2 linked regions of the Homo sapiens genome follow. Each later gene encodes a partner of the first gene's protein in a complex. Each region holds a gene or a part of one and is shown in the gene's direction. Other genes may lie near its edges.

Region 1 (3,926 bases):
TTTCTTACCACCTCCCCTAACCCGAGCACCTGACCTTGGAATATTAGTTGCAGTTTGGAATATTGTATTTCTTCTGCGCTAATTGTGTTTTATTTCTTTTAAGTCCTTAGAAAATATAAGCAAATGTAAGTTTTTTCTGTTCTCTGTTCTCTTTTTCCAAAGGGATTTTGCTGTAGGAATCTGTAACAAAATCAGTGAAATGATTCAAGGTATGTATTCTTCATTTAGTATTATGAAGTGACTTAATTAGATTTATAATAGTTGCTAACACTAATTAAGTACTTATTATTTGCTAGTCACCATACATTCAAATAATATTTATTAAGTATCTTCTATTTGCCCAAACTGTTCTAAATGCTGAGGATACAGGAATGAGCAAAACAAAGTCCTTACCCCCATCTAACCTACACTCTAGTCAGGGGTGGGGTGTGTGGGGATAGACAAATGTGCCTATGACATTTCTGGTGCTATGGTGAAAAAGTGAGAGAAGAAGGATAGAGAGTCTCAAAAGTAAGTCGTTGGTGGGTTGAGAGAAGGGACTTATCTATTTTATATATATTGATCAGAGAAGGGACTTTTTTGTATATATTGATCAGAGACAGTCTCTGATGAGGTGATACTTGAGTGAGACATGAAGGAGAGAAAGGAGTGAGCCATGCAGATATAGTCTTGCATTGCTTAACAATGGGGATCCTGTGTGAGAAATGGGTCCTTAGGCAGTTTTGTTGTTTGAACTTCATAGAGTGTACTTAAATAAACCTAAATGGTATAGCCAACTGTACACTTAGGCTGTATGGTATAGCCTATTGTTCCTAGGCTCTAAGCCTATACAACATGTAACTGTGCTGAATACCCATAGGCAATTGTAACAAAATGATTTGTATATCTGAGGTAGAAAAGGTAATATATTGCACTGTGGTGTTACAATGACTACAGGGTCTATGAAGTTACTAGGAATTTTTCAGCTCCATTATAATCGTATGGGACCACCGTCTGTCATGTGGTCCATCATTCACCAAAGCATACTTATGGGGGGCATGATTAGTGTAGGGAAGACTGCTCTGTGTGAGAGAGGCTAATATTATTAGGAGCTCTGGAACTCTCTGCTAATGTCCCTCCAGTGTCTTCCAGTTGCATTTAGAATCAAATCCAGATTCCTTACCATAGACTACAAAGCCCTGGTTTTCCAGTCTCTTATACCATAAGTCATGTGTATTAACCCTATTTATCCTTACAACAGTCATTATGGGAGCCCAAGAGCTCCCATAGGGTTAATACACGTGTCATACCCCTATTTATCCTAGCAGTCATAAAAGGGAGCTCTTGGGCTACAGCATTGCCTGACTCTAGAGAACACCACTTTGTTTATATTCTTATAAAGAGCATTCCTTTGAATTGTGCAATGTGGCAGCCTTGGATAGGTAATACCATTATGTTCGTTTTACAGGAAAGGAAATAGAGCCACACTAAAGCTGAATGATTGGTTCACAGTAAAAAAGCTGATAACTTACAGTTTGGCTTTGAGGCCGATGCTTTTAACCACTTATGCTACTGTGCCCTTCTAAGGCATGAATTGCTTAGTGTAGTTATATTTTGCACGCATTTAAATTGTCCTTCAAATTAAAATTAAAGAGAACTTGCTCACTTGCATAAATAATAAAAATCACTTAAAGACCAAGATACAGTGAATGAGCTTTGTTGTGTTCCCCTTTATTCCTTTGTGTTTTTTCTTCCACCATTAGCAAAAGGGCTTTCCTGCAGAAAAGTATCCTTATGACATTAGAAGGAAGCATCACTTATTCATTGAGCAGATTTTATCAGTGCCTGCTGCATCAGACAAGATCTCAGCAGGAAACAGGTGGCACATTTGAATTAAGATAACTCAAGGAAGGTGTAATAAAGGAACCATTCACAAAGGCATGGTCAGGGTGTACTATAGGGGATAATGTAGTTCTTGAACCCGTAATAGCTTTTACCATACCTCTAAGGGTACAGGTTAAAGAGAGGTTACTAGAAAATTGGTATCATGTCAGGAGGACCACTTTGAGAAGCTAACCTCCAGGAGCATGATGTGACCCTGCAGTGAGAGAACCAGGGAATAAATACTCTGACCTCATTCTTCTCTGCAACTCCTGCTGGGCTCTCCATTGGTTAAACCCAAACAAAGGGTAGATAGCAAGGGAGTTGATGAAAGCTATACAGGTGAGCCTTCTAGGATGCTGGAGTATTCTGTGTATCTGATGACAGTTATATGAGAATATACATATGTAGAAATACATTAATCTGTACACTTAAGATTCATTACCTTATTGTTCCTTAAATTTTATCTTAAAAAAATCTGAAAGAACAGGAATTAGCAGGAGAGAGAGGCAGAGGAAAACATAGGAGTGTGGGTGGAGGAAAATTGGAACCTAAGATATGGAAATGAAAGAGGAGTTTTAGGAACAGAATCCTGACATTTGGTTTTAAGCCACTTTTGTTTCTGCCAAGTAAAATCTCCGAGCCTCCCTAAATCTTTAGTAAAGATGCCTGTAAACACAAAGATCCCTCTGAGTACTGGGTTGAGAATAAACTTGCAGTGGAGGAAAGAGGGGGATATAAGAGTGGAGTCTGCCATGGGGAAAGGCCTAAGCAGGGAGAATACTTAGGAGACTTGCAATAATTTAGTCAAGAGATGGTAGTGGAAATGGATCGGCATGGTAACAACGGAGGTAGAAAGAGTCAGTTTGGGTTTTATTTTGAAGTTAGAACCAATAAGATTTGCTAATACATTTGGAAATGGGATGTGATAGAATCCTTTCACTAATAAGAAAGACTCCAGGGTCTAAGAAGCTATAATGATGTGATTTACTGAGACAGGAATATTTTTGGAGGGGCAGTTTCAAGGTTAAGATCAGTTCTCTTTGAGCCTTATTAATACAAAATGCTTCTGAGACCTCCTAGTGCAGATGACCAGAAGATAATGAGATACATGCGTCTGACGTCGGGGCAGGAGGACGGATGGGTGGCAGCCTTTCACATTTAGCCGATAATGGAAACCATGGGATTATATCAGCTCACTCAGGGAAAACACATAGAATGAGAAGAGAATTTATTACCAACCTATGGGAATATCAGAAATTAAAGCGTAGACAGACAAGGAGACTACAAAGGAGATTAAGAAGGAACAGCCAGAGAAAGAGGTCAGAAAACAGTAAAAGTGGAAGAGCCAAAGCCATTAGGAGTGAGTTTCAAAGATAGAATGGTCAGCAGTGTCAAGTGCATTCAGAACCTTAAGGAACAAAGTAATAACATGAGCATGATGTGACCCTGCAGAGAGGAAAGCAGGGAATACTCTGATCTCATTCTTTTCCCTCTGGCAAACCCAAGTAGAGGCCATCTAGCAAGGGAGTTTATTGACGTAGGCAACTGTTGGACGTTGAAATGCTGTCTTACGTTCATACCCACAATTATTTCACCATGGAAAAGCCAGCAATACGCAGAGTATAATTAGCTTGTGGCATGTATGTGGTACATTACGACTGAGAAATTTGTGTTCACCATGACCACAAAGCCATGCCATAGAGAAAAGATTTGTTGGTTTCGCTCCACTGTTGACAGGAAAACGTGGATTAGGGTTAGTCTTCATGGATCCAGTCGTGTATGCAATAAAGAAAGGCATTTACTACACAAAGTTCAGAGGACTTCGAAACCATTCTACACACAGTTTATTCACATCCTGATTATGATTTAGTTGTTGAAGGAAATAATTAAAATCATAAGTATAATCAGACTGTAGCCATCAAGTGTGTGTGTTTGTGTATATATATGTATATGTGTATGTATAATTTTTTTACTATGACAATGAGAGGAAATAGGCAGCAAATATGACTTTGCTTTCTACTGTGCTTTTTAAAGGCAGTTTTTATTATCAGCATGTAGTTTTA
Region 2 (3,926 bases), on another chromosome or scaffold:
TTACAAATAAGTACAGAATGTTTTTGGGCTATGTAACAGTGAAACTTCTAGTTTTGTTGAGGGAATGTGCAGGAAAAACTGAAACTTGAGAGGTGACTTAAGATGGAGGTGGGGGTGGCACACTTTCTACTGAAGTGCTAAGGTAAGAAAGAGTATATTGGAGGACTTGAAATAAGTCAGATAGCTATAACAGAGAGAGTGAGAATGGCCTAAGATACTAGGTAACATTTAATGAGTGTCAACTATGTGTCAGGTACTGTTGTAACTGCTTTATATGTATTATTAATCATGTAGAGCAATGGTCCACAACCTTTTTGGCACCAGGGACCAGTTTCATTGAAGACATGGTTTCAGGATGATTCAAGTGCATTACATTTATTGTGCACTTTATTTCTCTTATTACTACATGGTAATATATAATAAAATAATTGGACAACTCACCATAATGTAGAATCAGTGGGAACCTTGAGCTTGCTTTCCTGCAGCTAGACGGTTTCATCTGGGGATGATGGGGTATACTGTGACAGATCATCAGGCATTAGATTCTCATGAGGAGCACACAACGTAGATCACACACATGCACAGTTCACATAGGATTCGCATTCCTATGAGAATCTAATTCCACCAGTGATGTGACAGGAGGCAGAGCTCAGGTAGTAATGCAAGTGATGGGAGTGGCTGTAAATACAAATGAAGCTTCCCTCGCTTGCCTACTGCTCACCTCCTGCTGCATGGCCTGAAGGTTAGGGACCCCTGATGTAGAGAATTGGAGACCTTGTTAAGAATCTTATTCTTGAACCTTTGGATTGTGAGAAGTGATAAAAGGATTTTAAGCAAGTGAGTGATATGAAAAGGTTTAAAGGGATGACAAGAGTGATTGTGGGAGACTGATTAAGCTTTTGCAGTGGGCCAGATAATAGATGATGCTAGGTTGGTCTAGGGTGGTAGTAGTAAGGATTGAAAAGGGTGGATAGATTTGAGGTATGTTTAAGAGGTTTGGTTATTGAATTGGGGGTGGGAATTAAGGAAGTGGGAAGAGTTAAAGCTGCTTCTGGGTTACTGGCTTGGGCAATAGGGTAAATATCATTTGAAAAAGGGATTACTAGAGGAAGAACTGGTTAGGAGAAAAGGGAATAGTGTATGAGTGGCTCTGTTGGAGACACGTTGCATAGGAGGCACCAATGATATATCCATGTCAAGCTGGCAGTTGGATCTTGGGAGAGACACATGGACTGCAGAGATGTATTAGTAATCACTGGCAAAAGACTATATAGATCAAATTGTCTAGGGCAATAATTCCCAAACTTTAGAGTAGATAGAATTGCCTGGAAGGCTTAACACAGATTTCTAGACCCTACTCCCAGAGTTTTTTCTTCAGTAGGCCTAGGAATGGAGACCAAGAGTTTGTATTTCTAAGTTCTGACGTGATACCTATGCTGCTGACTCAGAGAACACATTTTTGGAAGAAGATGTAGAACAAGTCAAGAAGAGACCCAGAACCTAGCACTGAGGAACTCATTTTTAATTGGATAGGAGGAACCTACAAAGATGACTGACAAAGAAGTAGGAGGGACAATCGTATGTATTAGGTTTACCTGACTGAGGCGGCGAATGACTCATGAGAGCATTTTCATGGAATAGTGGGACAAAGGCTGAATTGCAAGAATTGCTGTGTAAATAGAAGGAATGAAGAAAAAGAGTACAAAAGCATATGATTTCTGAGAACGTTTTGCTATAAAAGAGAAAAGATAGAAGATGTTTGAATATATTTAATGTCAATGAAAAGATGCCAGTAGAAAGGCTGAAAAAAAAAAAAAGAAGATATGGGAAATAATCCATAGGCCAAGGTTCAAGAGGGGACAAGAAGAGATAGGATCCAGATCCAGGTGACACTACATAGAGAGCTACCTTCTCCTTTTTTATCAGATGGGAAAGAGGAAAGGATGAGTGCAGGTAAGTTTGTAGATGTGCTGGAAGGAAGTCGACTTAATTCCTCTCTGACAGCCTCTCTTTGTGAAGTAGGTGAGGCCATCTACTGAAACACAGAAGCAATTTTAAAAGAAAATGGAGGAAGTATAACTGATCTTTGCAGAAAGTGGGGAAGTGAGTTGACCAGAGAAGGATGAGAGAATTGCCAAGTTGTACTGAACGCCAAGCTGAGAATGGTGATTCTGAAGATAGAATGTATGTATATTCCTCCCAGTTGCACTTAGAGTTTGGGTGCAGGCAGAGAGAGAATGGCTAGCAGGGTGGATGTCTATAAAGTAGGGAAACTACAGGGCTTTCGGGTGCCTAGAGTACTGAAAGAGGTATTGAAAGGGTGGACCACAGAATGTGAGCTGGATAGGAAGTAAACGGCATACTGCAATAAATCAAGGATAATAAGAGATACAGAAAAAAGATCATTGTTCAGTAATGGCGATTTTTGTGCTATATGCATTTGACACAGCTAATTCCCAGCATCACCTAAGAATTCACTCCTATCAATACTACTACTACCACTTCCCTAGGTCAGCGAAAGCTTTAAAGTGGTAAATATTAATTTTCTCACATTCTCCTTTTTGAAAGCAACATCTACTTTTTAAATGAAACCTACATTTAATATATTAAATATCTTTCATATATACATTTTTCTTTCATACACACACACAGGACTTTGTTTTCTAGAACTCTAATCCATAGTAAGAATGATATGGCTCTTTTGCAGTCTGTTTTGGCCATGGGTTTAGGAATGAATATACAGGAAAGGAATTGTATAGAAGTAACATGATTTGGTGTAACTCCAGGAAAATATTTTTGTATGTGTAGATCAACACAGTTACACCAAGTTGCTGACCTCTTTATGACTGCTGTAGAAAGTAAACTTCTTTCACTATATGGATATTTGCCGGTAAGGAAGGAAAAGTAACAGAGATTAGAGAAGGCAACAGAAAAGGGGGAGTAAAGGTAAGATAGAAAACTAAAATATAAAATATAAACCACATAACCATAAGTGTTTTATTTTAGGTTCAACTACTGTTTTCTGTTTGGTGAGGAAACAAAAGTCAGGGCAAGAGGGTGCCAATAAGGAGAAAGCAGAAGGGACAAGAAATTGGAGGCTTCTGTAACAAAGAACAAGTAGAATGGGAATAGAGAAATGAATAAATACAGAAGAAAGATTGACTTGGCACTTTGAAGAGGTCCCTGGATTAAGGCAGTGGAAGAGATAGAGTAATGGAAGATTGTAGTCAGAAAGGAGAATTGATTGTAATAAAAGAGGACAATAGTTGTGGCAAGTTTCAGATTTCACTGGCTGAAGATAAAGCTCCTTGAGGTTAAAGATCAATTATATAACACACTATTATCACTCTGTATATGAATAGATTTTTAAAAAATAAATAGAAATAGAAATAAATTGGCTGGGCGCGGTGGCTCACGCCTGTAATCCCAGCACTTTGGGAGGCCGAGGCGGGTGGATCACAAGGTCAGGAGATCGAGACCATCCTGGCTAACATGATGAAACCCCGTCTGTACTAAAAAATACAAAAAATTAGCCGGGTGTGGTGGCGGGCGCCTGTAGTCCCAGCTACTCGGGAGGCTGAGGCAGGAGAATGGCATGAACCCGTGAGGCGGAGCTTGCCATGAGCCGAGATCATGCCACTGCACTCCAGCCTGGGCGACAGAGCGAGACTCTGTCTCAAAAAAAAAAAAAAAAAAAAAAAGAAATAGAAATAAATTAAAAAGTTAATATTTTTTTCTCTGTATTCCACCATGGGGACCACTGGGTCAAAGGGCCATGTTAGTAATTTAGGGGAGGGGTACAAAGCCTGTTAAGTTTTATAATGGCAAGATTGCATAAAAAGAACTGACTCCAAGGTTCCAACTGGAATGTTGGTGTTGATGACTTCCGCAGTCTTGTAATCTAGGTGCTGACTCTTGTCACCTAA

The links.
Region 2: INTS7 (region 1) and INTS12 share a complex: the UniProt entries of both Homo sapiens proteins name them as parts of the integrator complex.

Annotation. Positions count from the first base shown.
Region 1 is NC_000001.11:212,007,658-212,011,583, reverse strand, and holds part of INTS7 (integrator complex subunit 7), read left to right. Parts: intron 1-162; coding exon 163-209; intron 210-3,926. UniProt on the Homo sapiens protein: Component of the integrator complex, a multiprotein complex that terminates RNA polymerase II (Pol II) transcription in the promoter-proximal region of genes.
Region 2 is NC_000004.12:105,701,906-105,705,831, reverse strand, and holds part of INTS12 (integrator complex subunit 12), read left to right. Parts: intron 1-441; exon of another isoform or gene 442-518; intron 519-2,022; 5' UTR 2,023-2,184; intron 2,185-2,808; exon of another isoform or gene 2,809-2,946; intron 2,947-3,926. UniProt on the Homo sapiens protein: Component of the integrator complex, a multiprotein complex that terminates RNA polymerase II (Pol II) transcription in the promoter-proximal region of genes.